Regions from separate parts of the Homo sapiens genome. Here all the other regions are linked to region 2. Evidence: fine-mapped QTL for protein levels in blood plasma. Region 2 holds a variant in brackets. A gene starts in each other region. All regions are shown on their reverse strands.

What was found. A credible set is the group of variants that fine-mapping cannot tell apart. PIP is the chance, under the fine-mapping model, that this variant and not a neighbour inherited with it causes the effect. Protein levels are from antibody-based Olink assays in UK Biobank. Linkage for the fine-mapping came from a reference panel and not from the study's own genotypes, which makes the PIPs less certain.
Region 1: CPXM1 starts here. The variant in region 2 is the best candidate, but not a certain one, in a credible set for the plasma level of the CPXM1 protein (UK Biobank, PIP 0.76).
Region 3: it holds the start of SCRN1, and the variant in region 2 is the best candidate, but not a certain one, in a credible set for the plasma level of the SCRN1 protein (UK Biobank, PIP 0.65).

What each region holds. Positions count from the first base shown.
Region 1 is chr20:2,797,211-2,805,390 of GRCh38, reverse strand. CPXM1 (carboxypeptidase X, M14 family member 1) reads left to right here and starts at 4,764. Exons shown (of 14, transcript NM_019609.5): 1 at 4,764-4,990; 2 at 6,498-6,665; 3 at 6,854-6,963; 4 at 7,100-7,239; 5 at 7,333-7,423; 6 at 8,049-8,180. The coding sequence starts at 4,819. RefSeq lists enhancers at 4,221-5,206, 5,207-6,194, 6,195-7,182.
Region 2 is chr1:199,038,142-199,046,321 of GRCh38, reverse strand. It overlaps LINC01221 (long intergenic non-protein coding RNA 1221), which reads right to left. Exons shown (of 3, transcript NR_126351.1): 2 at 4,650-4,766. Among named protein-coding and RNA genes, the nearest start is that of LINC01222, 23 kb to the right of the region's middle. The variant G/A (reference allele first, on the strand shown) is at 4,730.
Region 3 is chr7:29,985,132-29,993,309 of GRCh38, reverse strand. SCRN1 (secernin 1) reads left to right here and starts at 3,509. Exons shown (of 8, transcript NM_014766.5): 1 at 3,509-3,668. It overlaps FKBP14-AS1 (FKBP14 antisense RNA 1), which reads right to left and starts at 4,654. Exons shown (of 3, transcript NR_187577.1): 1 at 4,517-4,654. RefSeq lists silencers at 3,383-3,722, 3,743-3,792, 3,803-4,072, 4,163-4,282.

The DNA of each region.
Region 1 (8,180 bases), not on the chromosome of region 2:
TGGGCATCGCTCCTCGTGGGGATGGGAGCATCTCCCTGGAGAGCCCTTTGCAAAGGCCAAGCGCCGGCCAAAGGCACACCGCTGGACGCGTTTCCTTCCTTCTGGAGAGATGACCAGGAATGCAGGATCCAAAGGGGGTCTTGGAGGGAGGGCGGGAAGGGCATCTCCGGATCTGGGCAGACCCAGGGCTGCCGGCTCCCCGAGGAGAATACGGGCTGGGGGCGAGGAGCCGGAGGGCAGGTCAGGCAGTGCATCAACCCTTGGCTCCTCCACCGCAGCCCCAGCCCGCAGGCTATCGCTCAGGCTTCTCTCTCCGGGTTATGTAACCCCGGGACGGGACGTGGCAGCCGGGTGAGTGAGCGAAGGAGTAGGGGAGGGAAGGGAAAGGAGAGGAGGGGCAGGGCCGGGCTTGGTGATGGTGGTGGTGGGAAGCGCCGCCGTGCCGCCTCTTCTTGGGCCCCTTGGGTTGTCTTTCTGGAGGATTCCGGGACCAGCCCTCTCCCCAGGCTCCGGGTCGCCCCCTAGCCCCCCGCCGCCTCATTTTCCCTTCACTCTTTTCCCCCTTCTGTCCCACCCGCCCTGCCAGGGGGCCTCTGGCTCTGGATAGCTTTTCCTCTCCGGTTGTAGTTTCCTTCCCAAAGTTCTCAGCTTTGCTACCTCGCCCAAGTCATTAGCCGCTCTGAGCCTCAGTTTATCAGTTTGTAAAATGAAGTTTGATTGAGCGGCCACGTGTAAAACTCCTGGCATAGTGCATGGTACAAAGTAGATGTCTGCTGCAGGCTAAGGGCCTCGAGGGGCTAAGTGAAATGTTGTGTGCCAGGCTGGGTGTCAGAGCCCCGGGAGCCGCAGCCACGAATGGTTGGCTCCCGGGTGGTAAAAGAATTTATCAACAACAGTATAGGTTTGAAAAGTTTTATTAGATGGAAAGAACTCCACAGCAGAGCGCAGCGGGATGCTTCGGCAAGAGAGGCCTGAGCTCACTTGCAGGGAACTGAAGGGTAATTTTGACCACATTAGTTTTGTAGGTCATAGTAAATGATTACATTTGTAGACATTTTGGCACCTTGATGACAGCAAAGGTTGCACAATGGGTTCCAACATGCGTGCATTCCGGAGATGTATAGAAATTCTAGGGAAAGAAGCCTGGTACCAGATGTGGCTTTAGATAATAGGAAAGTACCATTCTGAGTTCTTCAGATAAGGTGCTTTGCCTCCTGATGGTCTGCTTGATGGCCACCAGGTGATCCTTGCTCTCCTCATTTTCCCCCTGATAAATATTTTGGGCAAATCTTTGACCCTTTGTATTTCTCCATGCTCATGTCTACTTGTCTGTTAGGATCCCAAGAAAGGGAAAATGGCACAGTGAAGAGGGGTGTCCAGTCTATCTGGCTACTTCCTGCTGAAAAGGGGCATTGAAAGGATTCCTTTCTTGCTTTCTGTCATGAAGGGAATGAAGGGTCATGATAAACTTGTTCATGGAGGGAAGACCAGATTCCATCAAGAGGCCCCATGAAAATAGAAGTTGCTGTTGCAGGCTGGTATTGGGATTGCATAGTCATCTGTAGGTGGAATCATTGTAAGCTGGAAGATATAAGCATTAAAAGGCAGGAATTACCGGCATGCACCTCCATGCCCACAGATTTTTGTGTTTTTAGTAGAGACAGGTTCTCACCATGTTGGCCAGGCTGGTCTCCAACTCCTGACCTCAGGTGATCCGCCCGCCTCGCCTTGGTCTCCCAAAGTACTAGGATTACAGGTGTGAGCAACCACACCTGGCCCCTGGGGTCTCAATTTGTGTATTTATGCATGGCCTCCACCAGTCTAGCTTGGAAAAGGGCAGGGCTTTCAGATAGTTTCATACATACAAAATTATTATTTCTTTTTATTTTATTTTATTTGAGATGGAATTTCGCTCTTGTTGCCCAGGCTGGAGTGCAGTGGCGCAATCTCAGCTCACCACAACTTCCGCCTCCAAGGTTCAAACGATTCTCCTGCCTCAGCCTCTGGAGTAACTGGGATTACAGGCATGCACCACCATGCCCAGCTCATTTTGTATTTTTAGTAGAGATGGGGTTTCTCCGTGTTGGCTAGGCTGGTCTCAAACCTCAGGTGACCCGCTCGCCTCAGCCTCCCAAAGTGCTGGGATTACAGGTGTGAGCCACCGCGCCCAGCTATTATTTCTTATAATTTAGAAAAATTAACAGGTTTTATTATATATTTTTCATTCCCTCCAACAGAGAAGTTACCATATGATCCTGTCTGCCCTTACCTCTGTTTGGGCCAGAATTGGTGGCCTGGTATTGCCAATAGGTTCTATGTTGGGGACAGCTTCTGCCCAGCTCTGTTATTAGGACTGGGAGCATGAGCTTCATCTGCCCATGCTGAAGATCACACGTGTGATTTTTTGTGTGTGGGAACAGCAGGTAGTTAATACCACAAATACATCTTGCCAGGTTAAATCAAAGGCAACAGTTAAAGTCTGAAATTCTTGAATGAACTTAGAGGGATCCTGACTAAATGAACCCAACTTGGATTGAATTTGCAAAAGATCAGACATGATCAGAAAAGGGACATGAACTTGGCTTGTTCCCAAATCTTCATTAGCCACCTTAGGGAGAGGCAAAATATTTTGGGGATTTTTCTGAGGACTCTGTACTAGTAGCATATGTGACTCCCCTGAGAGTATGTGAAGGGGAGAAAGTATTTGGGTATGTGGGTGGGAGATTGACTAGGGAATGGAGCAGATGGAGAGGGTGTAGGTGAAGAGTGAGCAGGTTGAGGAGGATGTAATAGGCAAAAGGAAGGATCATCTAAGACATCAGAACCGGGAAGGGAGGACGTTCCTTGGAAGCATACATGACAATTTGTATGTAATTTTGGGTTTGGATTTGGGGATAAAGCAAAAAAGACCTGAACATATGGGACTTCTGAATCCTTTCCAAGGTTCCGGCAAAAAATCAGTTAAGTTGTAAAGTAGCATTGCAATCCCAAGTTTCATTAATTGGCCAAATTGATTGATTAGGGAGCTTGTATTGAACCCAAGCAATATTAGAAAAAAGGATATGCTTTTTAAACTCTTATTTATTTTTTATTTGTATTTTTTGAGACAGAGTCTTGCTGTGTCGCCCAGGCTGGAGTGCTGTGGCGCCATCTTGGCCCACTGCAACCTCCGCCCCCGGGGTACAAGTGATTCTCCTGCCTCAGCCTCCCTAGTAGCTGGGATTATATGTGCCCGCCACATATAATTAGCCCCCTGGCTGATTTTTTTTTTTTTTTTGTATTTTTAGTAGAGACAGGGTTTCGCCATGTTGGCCAGGCTGATCTCGAACTCCTGACCTCAGGTGATCCACTCGCCTCGGCCTCCCAAAGTGCTAGGATTACAGGTGTGAGTCACTGTGCCCGGCCAAGTTTTGCATTTTTAGTAGACTCCCGGTCTTTAACTCCGGACCTCAGGTGATCTGCCTGCCTTGGCCTCCCAAAGTGCTGGGGTTACAGGCATAAGCCATTGTGCTCAGCCTTATATGCTTATTTTTAAGAGTTTGTGGGTCAAAATGAGACCAATGGGACCATTTTTAAGGAGGCAATCCAAGGGCGAGTTGGATGGAACTGAATTAATTGAACCGAAGTTGGGTTTAGACAAGGAACTACAAGATCCCTGAGGCATCCCTGTGTAGAATTGAGATCCACCGCTTCCAGGACAAGGCTTATGGAGTGTTAAAATGAAAGTGCCCTGCCACTCTGACAGGCAATAGCTCTTTTGTCTTGGCCTTGGGGTAATACCGGGGGATGGCGCTTGGCCAGAAACTGTCAGTTGCCAACGAGAACTCAAGCTGGTTCACTGGCAGTCCGAAAACAGAAAAGAGCCCTGGCCAGTCCCTCACCCCTAAGGGCAAGGACAGCCAGGTATCCCTTCTCTAGGGCTTCAGGATCCCACAGAAGAGCTGCCTCCACCGGGACCGGCAGTTCCCCAAAGAGTAAAGAACCAGACCGTGGAAGGAAGCAGAGAGAAAAAGGAAGAGGGAAATCCCAGTGAAGTCCCCGTATGGGCCACCAAGATGCCAGGCGAGGTGTCAGAGCTCCGGAACCGGGAAGTGGTTGGCTCCCGGGTGGTAAAAGAACTTATCAACAACCGTGTAGGTCTGAAAAGGAAAGTTTTATTAGACGGAAAGGACGAGGCAGCAGAGCGCAGTAGGCGCTTCAGCAAGAGAGGACTGAGCTCCCTGCGGGGAACTGCAGGGTAATTTGGACCACATTAGTCACTTAGGTCATGGTAAATGGTTACATTTGTCGATATTTTGGTGCCTTGATGTCAGCAAAGTTTGCACAATGGGTCTTAACGTGCACTCATTCCGGAAACGTACAGAAATTCTAGTTACTTATAAATTCTTGGGACGGAAGCTTGGTACCAGATGTGGCTTTAGACAATAGGGAAGTGTCATTCTGAATTGCTCAGATAAGGGGCTTTGCCTCCTGTTGGTCGACTTGATGGCCACCAGGTGATCTCTGGTCTCTTCAGTGTGGCTTTGCAGACTATAAAGGCGCAGCGCGCCAACGAGGCGGGTTGGCCCCAGACGGCGGAGAGGAAGGGCAGAGTCGGCGGTCCTGAGACTTGGGGCGGCCCCTTGGAGGTCAGCCCCGCTCGCTCCTCCCGGCCCTCTCCTCCTCTCCGAGGTCCGAGGCGGGCAGCGGGCTGTGGGCGGGCAGGAGGCTGCGGAGGGGCGGGGGGCAGGAAGGGGCGGGGGGCTCGGCGCACTCGGCAGGAAGAGACCGACCCGCCACCCGCCGTAGCCCGCGCGCCCCTGGCACTCAATCCCCGCCATGTGGGGGCTCCTGCTCGCCCTGGCCGCCTTCGCGCCGGCCGTCGGCCCGGCTCTGGGGGCGCCCAGGAACTCGGTGCTGGGCCTCGCGCAGCCCGGGACCACCAAGGTCCCAGGCTCGACCCCGGCCCTGCATAGCAGCCCGGCACAGCCGCCGGCGGAGACAGCTAACGGTGAGTTCCCCGACCGACGGTCCGCTCCCCCGCAAGCCGACTGCCCGGCTCTCCTGCCCCGTGGGGCGATCCCTCCCTAACACGCGGGCACACGCACACCCACGCACACTCACAGTCATGCACACTCACCCCGCACGCACACTCGCACTCACGCGCACACACGCGCGCGCACTCACACACATTCACACACGCGCACACTTGCACTCACACGCGCGCGCATTCACACGCATGCACACACACGCACACTCACACGCGCGTGCGCGCACACACAGTGCACGCGCGCGCACACTCACACTCACAGTGCACACACACATATACACACTCACACTCCCTCAACTCCCTGCTGGGAGCAATGGCTGCTGACTCGGCAGCCCCAGTTCCCTGCCAGACCTAGTCAGCAGTCCCAGGACAGGCGCCAGTGGGATGCTGCCTCTTCCAAGCCCCAAACCTTCCCTTTTCACCAAAGACAAAACAGGCCAGAACTGGCAGGAGGGGAGACAGAGGGGCAGAAGCTCTCAAGGTGCAGAGCAAGACTGCGTAGGAGAGAGTTTGAAGGCGAGGGCTGGAGAGAAAGAACAAAAGGAAAGAAGGGAGAGCCCCTCGCTGAGGCTGCCGGGAGGATGGGGCAGAGCGGGAGAGGAAGGCAGCCCGACCTCCCAGCTTTCCAGATGTGGAATAGGAGAGGAGGAGCGCAAGCGGAGGGCACTCAGGGGCTTCTAGAGGAGGCAAGTGGAGGAGGGTCTTGAAGGGTGATGTCCCCGAGTCAGGGGAGTCTGGAGAGAGAGAGAGAGAGAGGGCTGCCAAGAAGGAAGCGGCGGGCAAAGGCACAGGGGCACCAGATGCGGAAATGGGCAGCCTGTTCTGGAGGCAGCTGTGGAGCTTCGATGGGTACCCCCAGCACCTGCCTGGGCAGAGCCTTGTGCTGAAGGGCCGGCGGGCAGGCCCAGCCCTGAAAGCCTCGACACCCAGGCAGACATGGATTCCAGGACAGGCCATCTGAGCCCAGAGAGCAGACACAACAATGGAAGCGGCACAGGGGTTTTGGGGCATGATGCTGAGTCTGGAGCTAAGAAAGCCTCCTTGGAAAGGCATCTGGGCTGAGATGCAAAGGAAGAATGGGAATTAGGTGAAAAAATCAGAGGCGAGGGGTAGCATTACAGGGGAGGGGATAGCTAGTGCAGAGGCCCGGAGGTAAAGTGCCAGACTCAGCTCTTTGGAGCAACCGAACAGTTTCTAGAGGCTGGGTGCAGCTCTCCATTGGATTAGAGGTTCACAGGGGAGGCTGGCCAAGCATGTAGTTACATCAGGGAGGAGAAGGAGGAGCCAAGGAAGTGACTGGAGAGGCAGGTTGGGGTCAGATTGCAGGCCTTTGATGTCCTGTGAAGGCTGTTAGATCCTGGTGGTGTGGCCTGCTGTGGGCTCACATGTCTTCTTGGGCTGGCAGACCTTTCCATCCGGGGTTTCACCATTCTTCCTTTCCCCCATGCTGTGCCTCTCGGACCCCAAGGGACCTCAGAACAGCATGTCCGGATTCGAGTCATCAAGAAGAAAAAGGTCATTATGAAGAAGCGGAAGAAGCTAACTCTAACTCGCCCCACCCCACTGGTGACTGCCGGGCCCCTTGTGACCCCCACTCCAGCAGGGACCCTCGACCCCGCTGAGAAACAAGAAACAGGTACTTCCTCTCCAGGGGCCCAGCCCAGACTTGCAGCCCCTGGGGCACTTTACCAGCACAGCTCTTGGCCTCATGGGCACCGGCACGCCCCTTGCTTGCCTAGCGCAGGAGCAACCTTAGGCTCAGCTTCCCACCTGCCCTGGCTACCCTCCCTCTGGTCCTGTCTCACTGTTCTATCCCCGCCCCAGGCTGTCCTCCTTTGGGTCTGGAGTCCCTGCGAGTTTCAGATAGCCGGCTTGAGGCATCCAGCAGCCAGTCCTTTGGTCTTGGACCACACCGAGGACGGCTCAACATTCAGGTCAGTAATCCTGGCTCGGAGCCATGGTCTCAGGGTAGGGAAGGCAGCCCCTGGGAGCTTCTCTCCTGCCTCCTCTCTGTCCTGGCCTGCCCCACTCTGTCCAACTGGGCCTGACCACCATGTCCTGTGTCTGCAGTCAGGCCTGGAGGACGGCGATCTATATGATGGAGCCTGGTGTGCTGAGGAGCAGGACGCCGATCCATGGTTTCAGGTGGACGCTGGGCACCCCACCCGCTTCTCGGGTGTTATCACACAGGGCAGGAACTCTGTCTGGAGGTGAGGCAGACTAACCCTAGGTCAGGAGGTCACAGAAGGACTGGGGTGGGAGTCCTGGGGGCACCGATGATCTCTCTCCACCTCTCCTGCCAGGTATGACTGGGTCACATCATACAAGGTCCAGTTCAGCAATGACAGTCGGACCTGGTGGGGAAGTAGGAACCACAGCAGTGGGATGGACGCAGTGAGTGGTCCCACTGTGGCTGGGGCCTCCATGCTGGGAGTTGGGCACCCAGTCCAGGCTAGGCTGAGGCTCCTCTGAGGACAAGGAATAGACGCCAGCTTAGGCTTCCCAGGGGGGTGTGGCTTGTTGTCAAGAGGGTGGCACACGGCAGGCACCATTGGGAGCCAGCTGCTTTGGGACATGCCCACATCCTCCCCAGATAATGCCACCACAGGGTGGGTGCTGCTTCACGGTACAGCTTCCTCCTGGCGTGCCCCTTCTGGCCCGGGGCCTCTGGTCCACATCACTTCTTGCCTTCTCGTGGTTCTGACTTCCGCATCTCATGGACCTCTTTTTACAGCAGGCTACAATGTGGAGTCCTGGCCAGCTCTAGGATTGGCTTCCCCCGAGTCATGTGGCCAAACTGGTCTAATGAACTGTGTCCAATCCAGAGAGCAAGGCTGCCTAGGGCTGCCCATTGGCAGGGGCTGTGGGCCGGGGTCTGTGTTTGATGCACAGTGCAAGTCTCTAGCTGAGCCCACTAGGGTGGGGAGACAGTAAGCTTGGAGGCCTGAGCTCCTTCCCTGGGTCCTGGGCCAGGCTTCTGGGGTTTGAGCAGCCACAACAGAGAACTTGCTGCCCCCAGGTATTTCCTGCCAATTCAGACCCAGAAACTCCAGTGCTGAACCTCCTGCCGGAGCCCCAGGTGGCCCGCTTCATTCGCCTGCTGCCCCAGACCTGGCTCCAGGGAGGCGCGCCTTGCCTCCGGGCAGAGATC
Region 2 (8,180 bases):
GAGGCCTCACTGTGAACTTTTTTCTGCAGAACAGTTAGGCATGGACCCTATGGGGGCCAGTGGGCAGGAGAGGCCAGTGGGCAGGAGGGCTTATGGAATACACGTGCTCTAGTCCCACAGGGAAACCAGCCCTGCTCTCTCTTAGCTCAGAGGTCAGCTAAGGCCAGTGCCTCCCGGAGGTGCATAGAGATCCCTGGAGCGTGGCCATCTATGGCTGCTCTCTGCTGGAGCTGCCCAGTGAACAAACGCTCCCAGGCTCCATGCTGTCTGAAGGCTTGTCTCTGCCTGCTCCCTAGGAAGATCCTCCAGACAATTCATAAGTCCATGGGGGATGTGGGGTCCCCTGTAGCAAGGATCCCAGAGGTTCATGACAAGTGTGAGTCATCCTTCATTCACTTCTTTCCCAGGAACCATTCAGGTTCAGGAGCTAGCTCTAGCATTCAGGTACCCTGCATGGGGTTCCCAGCTTCCTCCCTGTTCAGTCTCAGCTTCAGCATCACCTCTTCATTGAGTTCGGCATTTTCTTTCTGAAGACATTCCCGAATTATGGTGGTTTACTTGATAATTTGGTCTCTCTGAGTGGGAGCAGTGCCTCCTGGCTGCATCTAATCAGCCATCTTGTTCCCCCTTCCCCATGTCCTGCACTTTTAAAGATGTCTACAGTGATCAACATTATCCAATAAACTGACTGAGCAATAATGCAATATAAGTATTTTGTAAAAGTGGAGAAAAGTGTAGAATGCATTATACATTAACTTGAGTAATACAATAATATCAGGTTCAATTTGTAGAAAATTATTTTGGTCATATTTAATATGACCAAAGATAAGGGAAATAGCAGCAATGATGATACTTTATTATTTCTTAGTATAATAATATTTCAGACTTGTGGTTTGTTCTTTCCTCTCTTTTATATATATGGATATATAGATAGATACTGATATTTTATTTTGTGCTGCCAAAATAATCAGTCTGCTTAACTTATTTTTTCCCAATATTCTTACATTTTGCCTAACAGACTTGCACTTCTTTAAATTTGCATTTCCTTCTTATTCTTTTTTAGTCTTTCTCCAATTTGCTCTTCTATTTTTAACATATTTGATTTCTTTTTTAAATTCTAGAACTTATTTTTTTAAAAATCTGAATAAAATTCTCTTTGTCCTCTGCTATTTTCCCCTATTCAGTCTGTAAGAACTACTCATTTCCACCATATTAGAGCTTAACTACTCCAATGTCACTATTCTCAACCTGTTGTTTATAAAGCCAGTGAAAAATAGCAAATTCAAAACGTCTTTCCAGAACACACATCGGGACCAAGAATGTATGTCTTAAAGGGTATAGTACAAAAATTGTGACGTATAGGTATGAATAGAGTAAGTATCGAAGGTGATCAGCGATCAGAAGATTTTGTGTGTATGTGTTATGTATGAGTGTGTGTGTGTGTACATAAATGTGCATGTATGCCATTTTAATTTTAATTTAACAAGAAATCAACTAAAATTGGTGGGTGGAGGCTAGTTATTTATTCAAAGTGTATCAAGATAGAGATAAGTAAATAATATAGTGAAAGATAAAACATCTATCTATGTAGATGTAGGAATGCAAAGAAACAGTATGAAAACACAAATGGCGAATCAACTTCCTTAACTTCCTTAATGCTTATAGCCTACATCATTCTGCTTGTGTGTTTTAAATTTCATCATGGATTTAATGAAAGGTATAGAAGAAACTGCAAGGCAGGGTTAGAAAGCAGAGCACACTGGGGATTCAGAAACTATGAACTATGAACTATCTGAACCAAGTTAGGAGATTTGGTTGAAGAGATTTTATCTACAAGGGGAAGATTAAAGATGCTTAACGAATTTGAAATATGTGACCAAAGGCTCTTTGCCAGCTCTTCTCCAGCTTGCTCTAGACCAGACAAAGAACTTCATTTAAAGTACAGCATGAGAAATGATTCTGATGAAAGGATTTGTTAAATGCTGTTACAGAAGTCAAGTACAAGGTCCTCAAAGTCATTAATCATAGAATTTAGATTTACTCATTCATGGTTGTGTCTTAGTCCTCCTTGTAACTTAGATTTATTCCATTTTAGTGATTTTATGTGGTTTACTTTAGAAAAAAATGCCTTAATGATCCAACTGGACCAAAATAATATGATCATCTTTAAAAGCCATTAAAATGACATTCAAAATCTAAAAGTGAGTGAATCAGTGATCATGAGGACATTCAAATATTGCATCTCAGGCCTCATAAAATCCATTGATACCATATTTTTCTCTAAACCAGAAATATTTAGGCCAAAATGGTTCAAGCTATTTTGATCATTTATTTTTTTTATCTGGTCTGGGACCCTGGGCCTAATGTCTTACTGAGTAAAAATCAATTGCTAGTAATTATACTAGAATAAGTACACAATATTGGAAATCAGAAAACAACCTGATCCTTGAGCCAATCTTCAATACGTTTATGGTGCTGAGTCTTACTTTCCTTAGCTATAAAATAAGAGGATTGGACTAGATTCCTACAAGTGGTTGCTCCCATTTTAATTGCTTTAATCCTAGGAATCTACTATATTTAAAAATCCAAAAGAGCTGTATTAAAGGACAGTGTGACAATGTGAATATGGACGTTGTAGAGAGTTTCAGACAAGTCTTAAATGTTTACAATATAGCCATCCTGCTACATAAAAGTTTGTCTCCCAGAGGATATATCTAAATCATTCTTTGGCCTGCCTTAGCTCTGGGAGAGACTAAACAAGCATCATGCATGAATTGTGCATGCTTGTAAAGCACACAGAAATATGTTATTAGAAAGTAGTATTTAACCTAAATAGAAAATCAGTAAAGTAGCATTTTAAATTATCTTGTAGCCTGATGAAAATTCAATTAGAACATGACACCCAAACATTTAGGAAATGAAGAAGTTTTCTAAGTACTTTAAAAAAGGAAAGAGAGATTGACTCTTCATATTTTCAAGAAGTAATTGGGAGAGTTATGTGAACTGGAAGAGGCCTCAGATGTGAAATGAACTAGGCTTCATGTAAATGAAAGGTATAATGATGGCTAAAACACGTACAAATCAGATAGCACCTGCCTGAAGTACTTAGACCGGGGAAAGAAGGAGAAGAAAGAAGATAGTGTTCAAAATGTTTGCTTAGATATTGATTAGAAGGTGAAATGTCAACTGGGCTTTCTTGCTAGACTGGGTACCTAGCAAACGCGATCCCATGAAATAGGCAAAAAGAAGTAAAGAATATGCACATCAACTATTTTATGTGACATGGTCTCAAGTTAGCGATTGATATACTAAGAGTGTTTGCCTTTGAGATGTTTTTCCCCAGTAATAGTATCTAGATTGCTTGAAGAAATTACTTTAAGTGCTTTAAGAAACCACTTAAAATCTGATAAATTCACTAGATGAATAGAATAGAATGAAAGACCAATGAATTATGCTTTTAATGAATTTATTGCAACTTTGTTGTCATTTTCTACTTCACACTTCTTTTTACCACGTATATTTTATAGCAAAAACACACAATTTTTCCGTGTGGGTGAGAATTTGAGTTATAGCCACAATATTATTGTTGAAGTATGTTTTTCAAAGTGTTTACAATAAAATGACTCTGGTAGTATGTTACAATATTGTGAAAGAATAATAATAATGATCATTAAAAGCAAAGTAATGAACAAAACCAGAAGCCACAAAGAAACCTTTCCAAGAGAGCATTTCCAACATTTTATATAAGGATGAATATATTCTTATATTTCCTTATATGGAGAATAATATATATGACATGCTGGAAGAAGAATAAAATAACTTAAAAAAAGAGAGAACGAACCAAACACAGAATGTACTTATTTTTGTTACTGTTCAAATTATTATGATGGGAGTTGCACAATAATGTTTAACAAGCACAAGCTTCAGACTCCATCACATCTGAGTTCAAAGCCTAAGCCCTAGGAGCTTGGTCAAAAGCCTCAATCTTTGTGAGTCTGTTTGCTCATCTATAATATGTGGATGGCAGTTCTGAGCTTATAGAATTTTCATTATAATTAAGTGAAATCACAAAACCAAATCAGTTCCTCTTAAGTGAGAAAAAGTGGCAAACTTTGTTGTTACTATTTTAATATTTATTATGAATATTTATACTTACTACCTTTTTCAATATCTATAATTAGACAATAAAAATATTTCCATTTTAAGGCATTCAATAATAGCTCTGTTAGCTTATAAAATGCTTCCTTGAGTTTCTTTTGGTTTGGTAAACATTTTTTTAAAAACCTTCATTGAGATTGCTTGGTTTTCAATATGATAAAGTGTAGGTCTCTATTTTAAACATCTTTTCTGAGAAGATAAGTAGCTATGTGATTTGCAAAATGCACAGCTTGTAAGTCTTGTAACTTTAAAATATTTCCCTTCTACTCTCTGCCTGCAGCCCTTCATCTCTCCGTTTCTTGGTCACCAGTTGAGTACAAACTCTCTGGTTTTAAAATGTTATCTATGTAAATTCTTCTGCCACAGCTGGACAAGATGCATTCAAGAGTTTTTCTGTTTCCTGTGTGGTGAAGCAGCTTTCCCCTAACGACTATTTCCCATCAGTACCACAAAGACCTACCTTCTTAACCACTGTTTCAACGGTTTCTTACCACTTCCACCTTTCTGTAGAACATTTCATTTGGAAGGAGAGTCACAAATACTTGTTCACTGGGCTGTTCAGACTGATAAC[G/A]TCTCTTGGGACTTGAACATTGATGCACAATTCTCATCTGGAAAAAAAATTCAACTGTCAAACATTGGCAAAGAATACCAGAAATGAAAACAAACTCTTTTCTGTCTTAGTGTCACCATAAGATAATTTGTTTTGCTCTCTTAGAGAATAAAATTCTTTACCTTTTTTCTAAAAATCAAAGTAAAAACATTTCATTATTTGTCTATTTTGCTTACTTTAGCAAAAATTTTAATACATTTGGATTCTAAGCATGTGTTTTACTGATAAATGCATTAAATTGTTATTAGAAACTTTAGACCTAAGAATAGAAAATCAAATGAGATTGACAAACATGGTAACATAGGCTTAATTTTTTAATAAGGAATGAGAGAATTCTAGTACTTTATTCTAATACAATAAATAATGTCAAGACTTTTCTTTACATGTTCAAGATTTTTCATCTAAAAAAAGACCCATGTTAATTATTAACTGCAGAAACAAATTATAAGTATTATGTCTACATTTCTTATAAAGAAATAATATCTTAATATAGCCTTTAAAAATCATAATTATTTTACCTGCTCATTTGTAAAATACTAAATGTATTTGAATTATTTTTCATAAATTAAGGAATTATAAAAGTTTAACTGTCATTTGTATATTATATCTTGATCTTTTCATTCATTTTTATTTTCTGGATTTATGGTCTTTGTTCTTATGGTTTTCATTCTGTTATATGTTTCCAAGATATTTTCAAATAGAGTTTTAACTGAGTGATGCTAGATTAGAACATTTTCTAGTTCAAAATATTTGATGATTCAATAACATAAATTATGTTATGGCTCAAAATTACCCCTCCCCTCAATAAGCACACACTGATAAGCAATGACATGTGTGGAATAAAAATGACAAGAAAGTATGGCTCTGTCTCAACAAAAGGCAGAACTGACAGCTAATGTTTGTTATTGCTCTAAGCACCAGAAAGTGTGTACTAAAGAATACTAGGTTTTTAGACTGTGAATAGGTGTTCCACATACAACTACAGACATGCCAATATCTACTGGAATAAATTGGATAATTTCTTGCTGAAATAAAGTTAAGTTGGTATCTTTACACAGGTGTTCTCATAGACTTTGATGTGTTAACACTGTGAACATTCCAGAGAAGGATATGGCACAGATCTCTTGAAGCACCTCCTAAAACTATGAAAACACCCTTCGGCTCTATTAATATGTAAAACAAATATTGGCAAATTGTTGATTAAGAATCTGCTTATGCTGTTTTTCTGTACATTTAAGTAACCACAAATTGTGTTTTTTCTTTCACAATATGTCACTTCCTTTCCATTCTCAATGTCCCCACCCTAGTTTGGGCTTTTGCCTCTCTCTGCCCACCTCTAGTTTCTCTTCTTGTTCCATCCTATGAATTTAATCATATTAATCTTCTTAATGCAGCTCTAATAAGATCACAAATTTCTTTGAATATTTGCCACAGTTTCCTTTATGAAGAGCAAAAATCTTTCAAAATGTAATCTGATATGCAGGGGTATCTATAATGCAATCCCAACCAACTTTCTAACGTTTTTTTTTTTTCAAATGGCATTATTTCTTGACCCACCTGTTTGATGAATTGACCTGGTCACCAGTCATGTCAGAGATTTATTTTCTCTGATCTTTTGATCACATTAGTCCTTTGTCTGGAATATGCTCAACCAGCTTGTTCCTATTGAGATCCAGTGTAGTCCATTCCTTGGTTCAAATTGAAATGAAATTTCCAGCATGGAACTCTCAGATTCTTCCAACAGGACAAAGCCTTCCCCTCATCTGAAACTCCATAAAAGTTTCTTACAAAACTTTTGAGGTATATATCACATCTGTGTGTAGTTGCCTCAGTTGCCTGTCTAAACTGTGAAATGGTTTGGGATAGGAGATAGAACATCAGGGAGAGATTTCTGCTAGGAAGTCCATGGCTTTAGGCAGTGGTCAGTTATATATGAAGTGGGTGCAGGGGCATTCATCTGATGAGTTTATTATTCTGATAAAGTAAATGCTAAAACATTTCAGAATCACTTCTTTAAGAGAAGAGCTACAAGATACTCATATTACCTTCGGCAAAACAGCTTTTATTATTTTATCCTTTTTATACTTTATTGAATACACCAAATTTAGAGTGTGTTTTCCAAATATTTTATATGCCTTCATATTTGCTTTTATTCTTTGAACAGAAGATAGAAAAAAAATTCCTCTGTCCAAAAGAGTACATCTTCTTTTCCTCCTTTTACTAGTGCTATTGCAGTCCTTCAAGACCCTAAACCATGCTAGCCCCAGATAGGTATGTTAACCTTAAAGACAGCGCCTAGGAAATTCTTGAGTGCATCACATCTAAAAATCTCTATTTATGAACATTAGACATTATTGTGATTTTAAAATTTCCCTAAGGCAAAAAATAAACTAAAATATTCTAAGTAGAAAATAAATAAATACATATAAATAATTTTACATTAAAGCAATTAAGAAAATTTCTCCCTAAGACAGCTGTAATTTCAGGGCAACTGTAGAGCCCTACCAGGACTGAAAGATCATCTTACATCTAGGATAATCTGTTCATTAGAGTTGTGGAGGGGAACTCACAAACATGAATCAATATTTCTAATACATAATACTTTATGCTGTAGACCACATCTTTAAAAGAATTCTGTTCTCTTCCAAAGAGCAGTAGGGACATAGACCCCGAGTTATACTTGAGGAACCTTCAGCAAGAGCATTACGATAGATTCCCAACAACTAGAATCCTTTCTTGGAATGCATAATGGAAAGAAAATACCTGCTTTTAAACCTTCCTCTCAGCTTTTACCTTAGGTTCACAACAGACTTGATTTTAATGTAACTAATGTGTCCGTATCCAAGGTTCTTCTCCCATCCTTAATTCAAAGCAATTTTGATAAAAGTAAAGGTGAGTTAGCTATATGGATTTGAGCTCATGTAAGTGAAGGTAGCCTTCAGAGCTACAATTTACATGTGGTAAGGCTTTATTACTTCTGGGCTATCTACTCTCATGTAACTGACAGGTGGTAGGTTAATGTATATAGAACACACACGTATATATTTGATATACTTCCTGCTAATGTGCATGCAGATTATTTAGACATCTGGAATCAATTTAACAATTGTGTGAACTTTACGTAAATAGCCATTATCCGACTTAATGACTTTAGTGGTTGCAGTTGCCAGGGTTGTCAGTGGTCCTGGCATAGGAAATTTGAATTGAAGAAGATTACTTCCCTTTGGGCTCTTTCACTAGAAGATCAGTTTGAATCAAAGAGAAAAATACCTGCTCAAACTCATTATCAAAACTGGATAATGGTAAATGGCAGCCTGTGGGAAATCTAAAGACAATTTAATTTATTTCTCTAATGAAGGGACCAGCATTATTATTTAAAATTAGTCCCTTATCTTACTTATACCTATTCTCT
Region 3 (8,178 bases), not on the chromosome of region 2:
GGCAACTTTTTATAAATTTAAATATACACCTGCCGTATGACTCACCCACTTCACTCTTAAGTATTAGGTTGGTTGGTGCAAAAGTGATTGCAGTTTTTGCCATTTTTAAAACAGTAATGGCAAAAACTGCAATTACTTTTGCACCAATCTAATGTTTACCCAAGAGAAATGAAAACCTACACTTACATAAAACTTGTAGATAAATATTATTAGCAGCTTTATTCATAATTGTTCCAAACTGAAAACACTATTAGTATCTGTGGTCATCACTGAGTGTACCCTCCAGACATGTTTAGCAGACAGCCTCTAGCTATAATCTCCTTCTGCCTCAGCTGCAGAGAGTAACCTCTGTAGGGATCATGTCCTTCTCAGGGCGGAAGAGAAAAAAGGAAATCTGTTATACTTGTATTTTTTAGCTCTTAAGTCTCTGAATATGACTAGATGGAATATAAATGACCGTGTAACAGTTGCAAGTCATTTAAGACATTTTTTTTCCTTGCAAGCTAGCTCATGGAAATCTTATAATTTACTCAAAGTTAAACCTCACATAATTGATAGAGGCCAATGATTAAAGCCCTTACTGATATTTCTTGGTGTTCTCCACATTTGTTGGACAGTTCTGTTCTCTTATCTCTATTTATGCAGCTCAAATAATAGTAGGGACTGTCTTTTGGATACAAAGCAGAGACAAAATAAGTGTATTGCTGCTGGTTTTTGTTTTTTAAGACGGAGTCTCACTCTCTCACCCAGGCTGGAGTGCAATGGCACGATCTTGGCTCACTGCAACCTCTGACTCCCTGGTTCAAGCTATTCTCCTGCCTCAGCCTCCCAAGTAGCTGGGATTATAGGCACGCACCACCACACACAGCTAATTTTTGTATTTTCAGTAGAGACGGGGTTTCACCATGTTGGCCAGGATGGTCTTGATCTTCTGACCTCGTGATCCACCCGCCTTGGTCTCCCAAAGTGCTGGGATTACAGGCATGAGCCACCATGCCCGGTCATTGCTGCTGTTTAATAAGCGTTCATAGTGCCATATAATAAGCTTCTCCATGCAGACCCTGGGGAAAGCAGGTGTCTTTCAATCTCCATGTGTTCCTGGGCTCCTGGCCTCAAAGCTCCTGTGGCTGTGTAGGGACAAACCAACAGGCTTCAAAGATCTCAGGCCAGGCAGGCAGGTTGGCAGTATCCCCTATCCGTGTACTGAGCATATGGCTGCCTCCAGGGGAGCAGCGTAGGGTGCAAGTGCCATCCTTTACACAACAAATGACATATACTGGCTATAGGAAGGCACAGGATTGCATTTGCCTTTCTAGTAGTGGTGTAGTCTTAAACTAGACATTTAAAACAGTGACTCTGGCTGGGCACGGTGGCTCACGTCTGTAATCTTAACACTTCAGATGGCTAAGGCAGGAGGATCATTTGAGTCCAGGAGCTTGAAACCAGCCTGGGCAACATAGTGAGACTCCATTTCTACAAAAATATTTTAAAAAGTAGCTAGGCATGGTGGCACATGCTTGTAGTCCTATCTACTCAGGAGGCTGAGGTAGGAGGATCACTTGAGCCTAGGAGGTAGAGGCTGCAGTGAGCCACTTCCCTCGAGGCTGGGTGACAGAGCGAGATCCCATCTCAAAACAAACAAAAAATAAAACAGCGACTCTGAGACTTTTAAAAAAAGTTTAATATTTATTTTAAGTTCTGGGGTATATATGCAGGATGTGCAGATTTGTTATATAAGTAAACGTGTACCACGGTGGTTTGCTGCACCTATCAACCCATCACTTAGGTATTAAGCCCAGCATGCATTACCTATTTTTCCTAATGCTCTCCCTACCCACACCTCACGGACTTTCAGACTTTAACATGCAAGAGAAACAACTAAAGAGCTTGAAAAATGCGGGTTCCCTGGCTCCAGCCCCAGAGACTCTGAATTCCATAGATCTGGGCTGGAACCCAGGAATAAGCCCGCTAGAAATTTCTAATATTGATTATTTAGACTCATTGGCTACAGTTTTCTTGGCTAGACTAAAAGAACAGTAAAGTACCTTTGTGCTCCAAGAGTCTACGAACCAATGCTCTATTCTGCAGTACCTACACCAACTTCCTCAGCCCTTCCCCACTATCCGTTTACTCATGTGTCAGACTGTAAGCACAGGCTCAACATTCAAAGGGCATGGAAAAAAGTCTCCTTCTCTCCCCAGCACCCAGTCTCCCAGTTCTGCTCCCTGGTGGCATCTATTACAGGTTCTTACGTACTCTTCCAAAGATACTCTGTGCATTTACAAAAATAAGTACAGACATACATATATATTTTCTTCCCACAAATAACACACACAACGTTCTGCACCTAGCTTTTTATTTTTCTTTAGTTAGTATAGGTTGGAAATAGTTTTGTATTAGCAAATAAAGATCATTCTCCTTTTTAAAGGAAGCTGGATAGTAGAGGCAGGCGGATTGCCTAAGCTCAGGAGTTTGAGACCGGCCTGGGCAACATGGTGAAACCCCATCTCTACTAAAAATCAAAAAAAATTAGCGAGGCTGGTGGCGTGGGTCTGTAGTCTCAGCCACTTGGGAGGCTGAGGCACGAGAATCGCTTGAACCCGGGAGGCGGGAGGCGGGAGGCGGGAGGCAGGAGGCGGAGTTTGCAGTGAGCCGAGATCCTGCCACTGCATTCCAGACTGGGCGACAAAGCAAGACTCAAAATGTTTTGATTTTTGTTAATCTGGCTGGTGGAAGATGCTACCCCACATATTTGATTTGCAGTTAAGTGAGCCTGAATATCTTTTCGTGTGCCAGGATAGAATTGCATTTATTTTCCTCTGAATTACGTCTTCATATCTTTTGAGATAGTCTTTTCTTATTTACTTATAAAAGATGGAGTTGACGCTGGCATCAACACACACACACACACACACACACAGACACACAACACACAAGTCCCTGTACATAACTTTATTAACCCAGATATGGAATCTTGGCTTAGTTACGTGCTGTGTGACCTTGGGCAAGTTACTTAACCTCTCTAGGCCACAATGTCCAAGTACCTGGGACAGGGTCTGGCTTACCAACATGGTACAGGACGGCACTTTTAAAACCAGGGACTCGACTTGGACGTGCGAGTCAACAAGGTACAGGACACATTTCTCTCCGGGGAAATCTTGTGTGGGCGCCGAGGCCCGGACGTAGCAACCAAACGTCGGGAAGAGGCGCCAAAAGGATGCTGGGCCTGGCTCCTTGAAGCCCGGGTTTTCCCTTTTGAGAGCCACAACCAAGAAATAAAAATCTAGCAAAGAGGGGGCCACTTTCTGCGGCGAGATACGCCCTCTCGGCCGCTCCTCCAGCTCCCAGGCCCCCTCCCTACTCGACGGTGAGCAGCGCCGCGGCCCGTGCAGCCAGACGCGCGGGGTGCGGCGGGGCCCCGGGGGCCGGGGTGGGGGAGGCGGAGGGTGGGCCCGCGGTCACGTGAGTCGGGCCAGCTGCTGCGGGGGGCGGCGGGCCCCAGCGCCGGGAGTCTGGGTAGGGGGAAGCGCCCGGCGGCCGCCTCCGCCACTGCAGCTGCAGCCCCCGAGGTCGCCGCAGTAATCCGGACCCGGCAGCACCCGCACCCTCGGCGGCCGCAGCCTCAGCACCGCAGAGCGGAGAGCGGAGCCCGGAGCCCGCCGCCCCAGGTGAGCCGCGTCTGGGAGCGCAGGGCGTTTGCAGCGCTGCTTTCCCGGCGGTTTCACCCCACCCGCCATCGCCACCTCCTGCGTTTCATCTCCTCCCGCTGTCCCTCCGAACCCGCGGGTAGCGTTACCCCAGGCCGATTCCCGGTGCTGGCCCGGGCGGGCTGGGAGCCTGGGGGCGGTCAGAGGAGAGGTGGCCTCGGCCTGAAGCCGGGGTGACTCGGCTCGGGGACTGCGGGGGTGCAGTGGAGGGATGCCGGCCCCGGGCTCCCGCACCGCAGCCGGGTTCCCCGCGCTGCTCTTCCTGGGTTTCCTTTTCCTGGCAGCCAACCTGCTGCCCACTGGGATGTGCCTGTGGGCCCCTGGCCTCGCCACCCTGGGGTCTGGGGCGAGCCGGGCACCTTCCCCGAGGTGCCGTACCTGCTGCGCGGGCGGGCGCCGCGAACATGGCTGCCCGGAGACGCCCGCCGCCTTCGGCCCGGCTCTGCCAGCGCGTCCAACTCGCCCGCGGCCGCCGCACCGTGTCCCGGAGCAGCCCTCCCCGCTAGGCCGACGCGCGCGGGCCGCCCCTGGGTTCTCCGCGGGCCGCGCGTGGGACTTGACACAACTTCCCTCGAGCCGCACCCGGGCGTTCTCCGCGGGGCGCCGGGCGGGGCTGCCGAGAGGCCGGCTTGGTCGGCCTCTGCCTCCTCGGCTCGCTCTTGAGGCGTCGAGTATTTGGCGACCTCACTCGCGAGGGCCGAGAGAAATGTGGTCTGCAAAGCAGGAGGGGCGCTTGAACTTTAGAGAATTGGCGAGAACTCGGATTTGGGAATAAAAATGTCCATGAAAACATCGAAGGAAACTGTTACCTGCTTTGACTCAAAGCTGACCTTGTAGGGTTCTGTTAAATAACGTGGCTTTTCTGGATTTTCTGTCTGATTCTAGCATGCAAGTCCTTGACTTACGCTTGCGTCCGGCAGCCGGGTGGGGTGGGTGCGTGCGTGTGTGTGTGCGCGTGTGCGCGTGTTGTGTTCCCAGCCTGGTTAGAAGATGCATCAGTTGCGGAGGAAACCTATGCTAATTCAAAATGGCAGCATGAAAAATAGGCCAGGCGGAAGCAGCACAGACCACAACCATCAGCTGCCCCCTGACTTAAGCCTCAGGGAGGGAATTAGTGTGAGTCAAGGCTCATCCGGGTATGGAGTAGAGAGTGATTCTTGGAGCTGGCTAGATTTTAGGGTGCTGCAGGGTCCTGGGAGTTGTTAAGTGGGAAGTTTGGAGAGCTGTAATTATTTTTCCTAACTTATCAAAAGATGATACAAAACCTAGTTAAAACTCTACGGTTTTGTATGATTTTCTCCAGGCTCAACTAAAGTTGACTCTGTGGCTGCTGATGTCTTTTTGATGCACAACCTGGAGGTCGTTTGATACCTACAAGCTCTTAAAAGAGATGTGTGCACATTGTAAACATCATCCAAGAGCAGTGCACATAACAAATACCAGGTTCTTAGATCAAGTTTCATTGGAAGAACTGATTTAGCGACACGAGGAAGCACCCAGGCATGAGGAAATGGGAAATTCTTGAAAGGTGACTCATTTTAGAATTTTTTTTTTTTAAACAGCCTTTCTTTCCCTTTTCACTTCCGTGCTGCCAGCCATCTTGTCTTTTGGGAAGGAGATACATGAGGAGGCAAATGCTTCAGGGATAATGGAATAGAGGAGGATGAGCTAAGGTCGGGGGGCAGAGGTGGAGGCAGTCTTAAGGAGCCTGCTGTCAACCCCCTTTTTACAGCAGGAAGGCTGAGGCCAGCGGGGCGAATGGACGCCAAGATCATATATCTGGCTGTCAACTGGCAGTGAGAACCCAAATCCAGGTCTCATAACTCCCCCGGGTTCCACATGCTACCTTTTAGAGCCTGGGGGAGAACAGCAAGTCTGTCATTATTAGGAAGGCAAACACTTCGAGCAATGGGAAGCCAAACTGTAATATGAATTACAAAGTCTATAGGTGTTTAAAGTCAATGACAACACCTTAATTTCCTAATTCAAGACTTTTAACTTCTTAAGCTGTATCTACCTCATGTTCACATTTTCCAGTGGTGAAACTGTTTCTATAGTTAAGAACCAAAAACATTATTTTAGTAAAGTCTTTGAGGCAAGAAGTACATTTTTTGATTAAAAATTGAGTTGCTTGTGTTTGTGGAGAACCATTAGGCCAGTTTATTTTGAAAAGGAACCAAAGTAGGCCATGCATTTCATTTTTTTCGACTGTTTCTAATTTTAAGTAAAAGTAAATAACAAGCCTATTGTAAACATAACTTTGAAGCAGTGAAGACAGGCTTTTCCTATGATTTGCATTTGACTTTTCTGAGTCATGAGTCAGTGACCTTAGATCTACTAAAGCAGAGCTAGAAATTGTGCATGGGTTAGTGTGAAGAGGTGGTGAAGATGTGGAAAACGTTTCTTCTGGGCATCTGAACCTTCACAGCCAGTGATGTGCAGAGGGAGAAGGTGGCAGGAGGCAGGGAACAGGGAGAATGTCTTGAGGCAGTGGAACAGATAGGAGCTAAATATGAATATATATATCGAAGTGAAGACAGATGCTGATGTGACATGTGCCATTTAGAAAACTAACTTGCAGCCGGGCGCGGTGGCTCACGCCTGTAATCCCAGCACTTTGGGAGGCCGAGGCGGGCGGATCACGAGGTCAGGAGATCGAGACCATCCTGGCTAACACGGTGAAACCCCGTCTCTACTAAAAATACAAAAAATTAGCCGGGCATGGTGGCACGCGCCTGTAGTCCCAGCTACTTGGGAGGCTGAGGCAGGAGAATCGCTTGAACCCGGGAGGCGGAGGTTGCAGTGAGGCGAGATGGTGCCACTGCACTCCAGCCTGGGCGACAGAGCGAGACTCCGTCTCAAAAAAAAAAAAAAAAAAAAAAAAATTAAAAAAATTAGAAAACTAACTTGCATTAGAGGATGAATGTGAAGATATGCCAAAGATATTTAAAATAGCAAGTTGTAAAAATACAGAAATGCATGCAATTTGTGTCTGTTGAAGAATAAGAATACAGATAAACAAAAGTTATTTTTTTTTAAATCCGTTTTCATTAGAGTCTAGATCTGTGCTGTTTCATCTGGTAGCCACCAGCCTCATGTGGCTATTGAGCACTTGAAATGCAGCTAGTTTGTATTGAGATATGCTGAGTGTAAAATATACACACAATTTCAAAAATTTAATATGAAGAAAGAATTTAAAATATCATTAATAATTTTATATTGATTTTATATTGAAGTAACATGTTGGATATATTGGGTAAAATATATTACTAAAAATAATTCCATGAGTTTCTCTTTACTTTTAAAAATGTGGCTACTAGAAAATATAAAATTGCAAATATGGTTCGCATCTGTCTTGCTCTCTCTCGAGACAGGGCCTCCCTCCGTCACCCAGGCTAGAGTGCAGTGGCACGATCTCGGCTCACTGCAACCTCTGCCTCCAGGGTTCAAGCGATTCTCCTGCCTCAACCTCCTGAGTAGCTGGGATTACAGGCGTGCGCCACCACAGCCCGGCTAACTTTTGTATTTTTAGTAGAGACAGGGTTTCACCATATTGGTCGGGCTGGTCTCGAACTCCTGACCTCAGGTGATCTGCCCGCCTCGGCCTCCCAAAGTGCTGGGATTACAGGCATGAGCCACCTCGCCCAGCCCTTGGATTATATTTCTAGTGGTTTTTAACAGGAACTGGAGGGTGGCTGAGCTCATAATGCTGTTTGTAGAACTGGGTATGTAAGGAGAAGTTAAAACAGAAACTGAAAAGGGGACAGGATGGACGGAAAAGGGACTACAAGAAGTGAGTGACCAGGGAAACTGTAAAGGGAGAGAAGGAGTATGTGGTGGGCTGGGACTGCTGAGTATGAGACTATGAAGCAGAATAAGCACACTACGTGGTGATCTAGGACATGGGGACAGTGGAGTGTCAGGGTCTATGGTGGTGGGACTTCAGCTAGGATGGAGAAATAGCATGGCTAACATAACTGCACAGTGCATTGGAAAGTAACTTCCTCATTCTGACACATCTGTGTTCCCATATCGAAATGAGATGAATACACCCCAGTACAGTGAGAGGGCCCTGGGCTGCAAGTTAGGGGACCTGGGACCTAGCTCTGGTCCCACCTCTAATTAGGAGTTTGGCCTTGAGCACACCACTTATCAGTCTCCTTCCTTTTATTTTTATTTTTATTTATTTATTTTTTGAGACAGAGTCTCACTCTGTCACCCAGGCTGGAGTGTAGTGGCGTGATCTCAGCTCACTGCAACCTCTGTCCCCCCAGGTTCAAGTGATTTCTCCTGCTTTAGTCTCCTGAGTAGCTGGGATTACAGGTGCGCACCACCATGCCTGGCTAATTTTTGTATTTTTTAGTAGAGACGGGGTTTCACCATGTTGGTCAGGCTCGTCTCAAACTCCTGACCTCATGATCCGCCTGCCTCAGTCTCCCAAGTGCTGGGATTACAGGTGTGAGCCACCGCG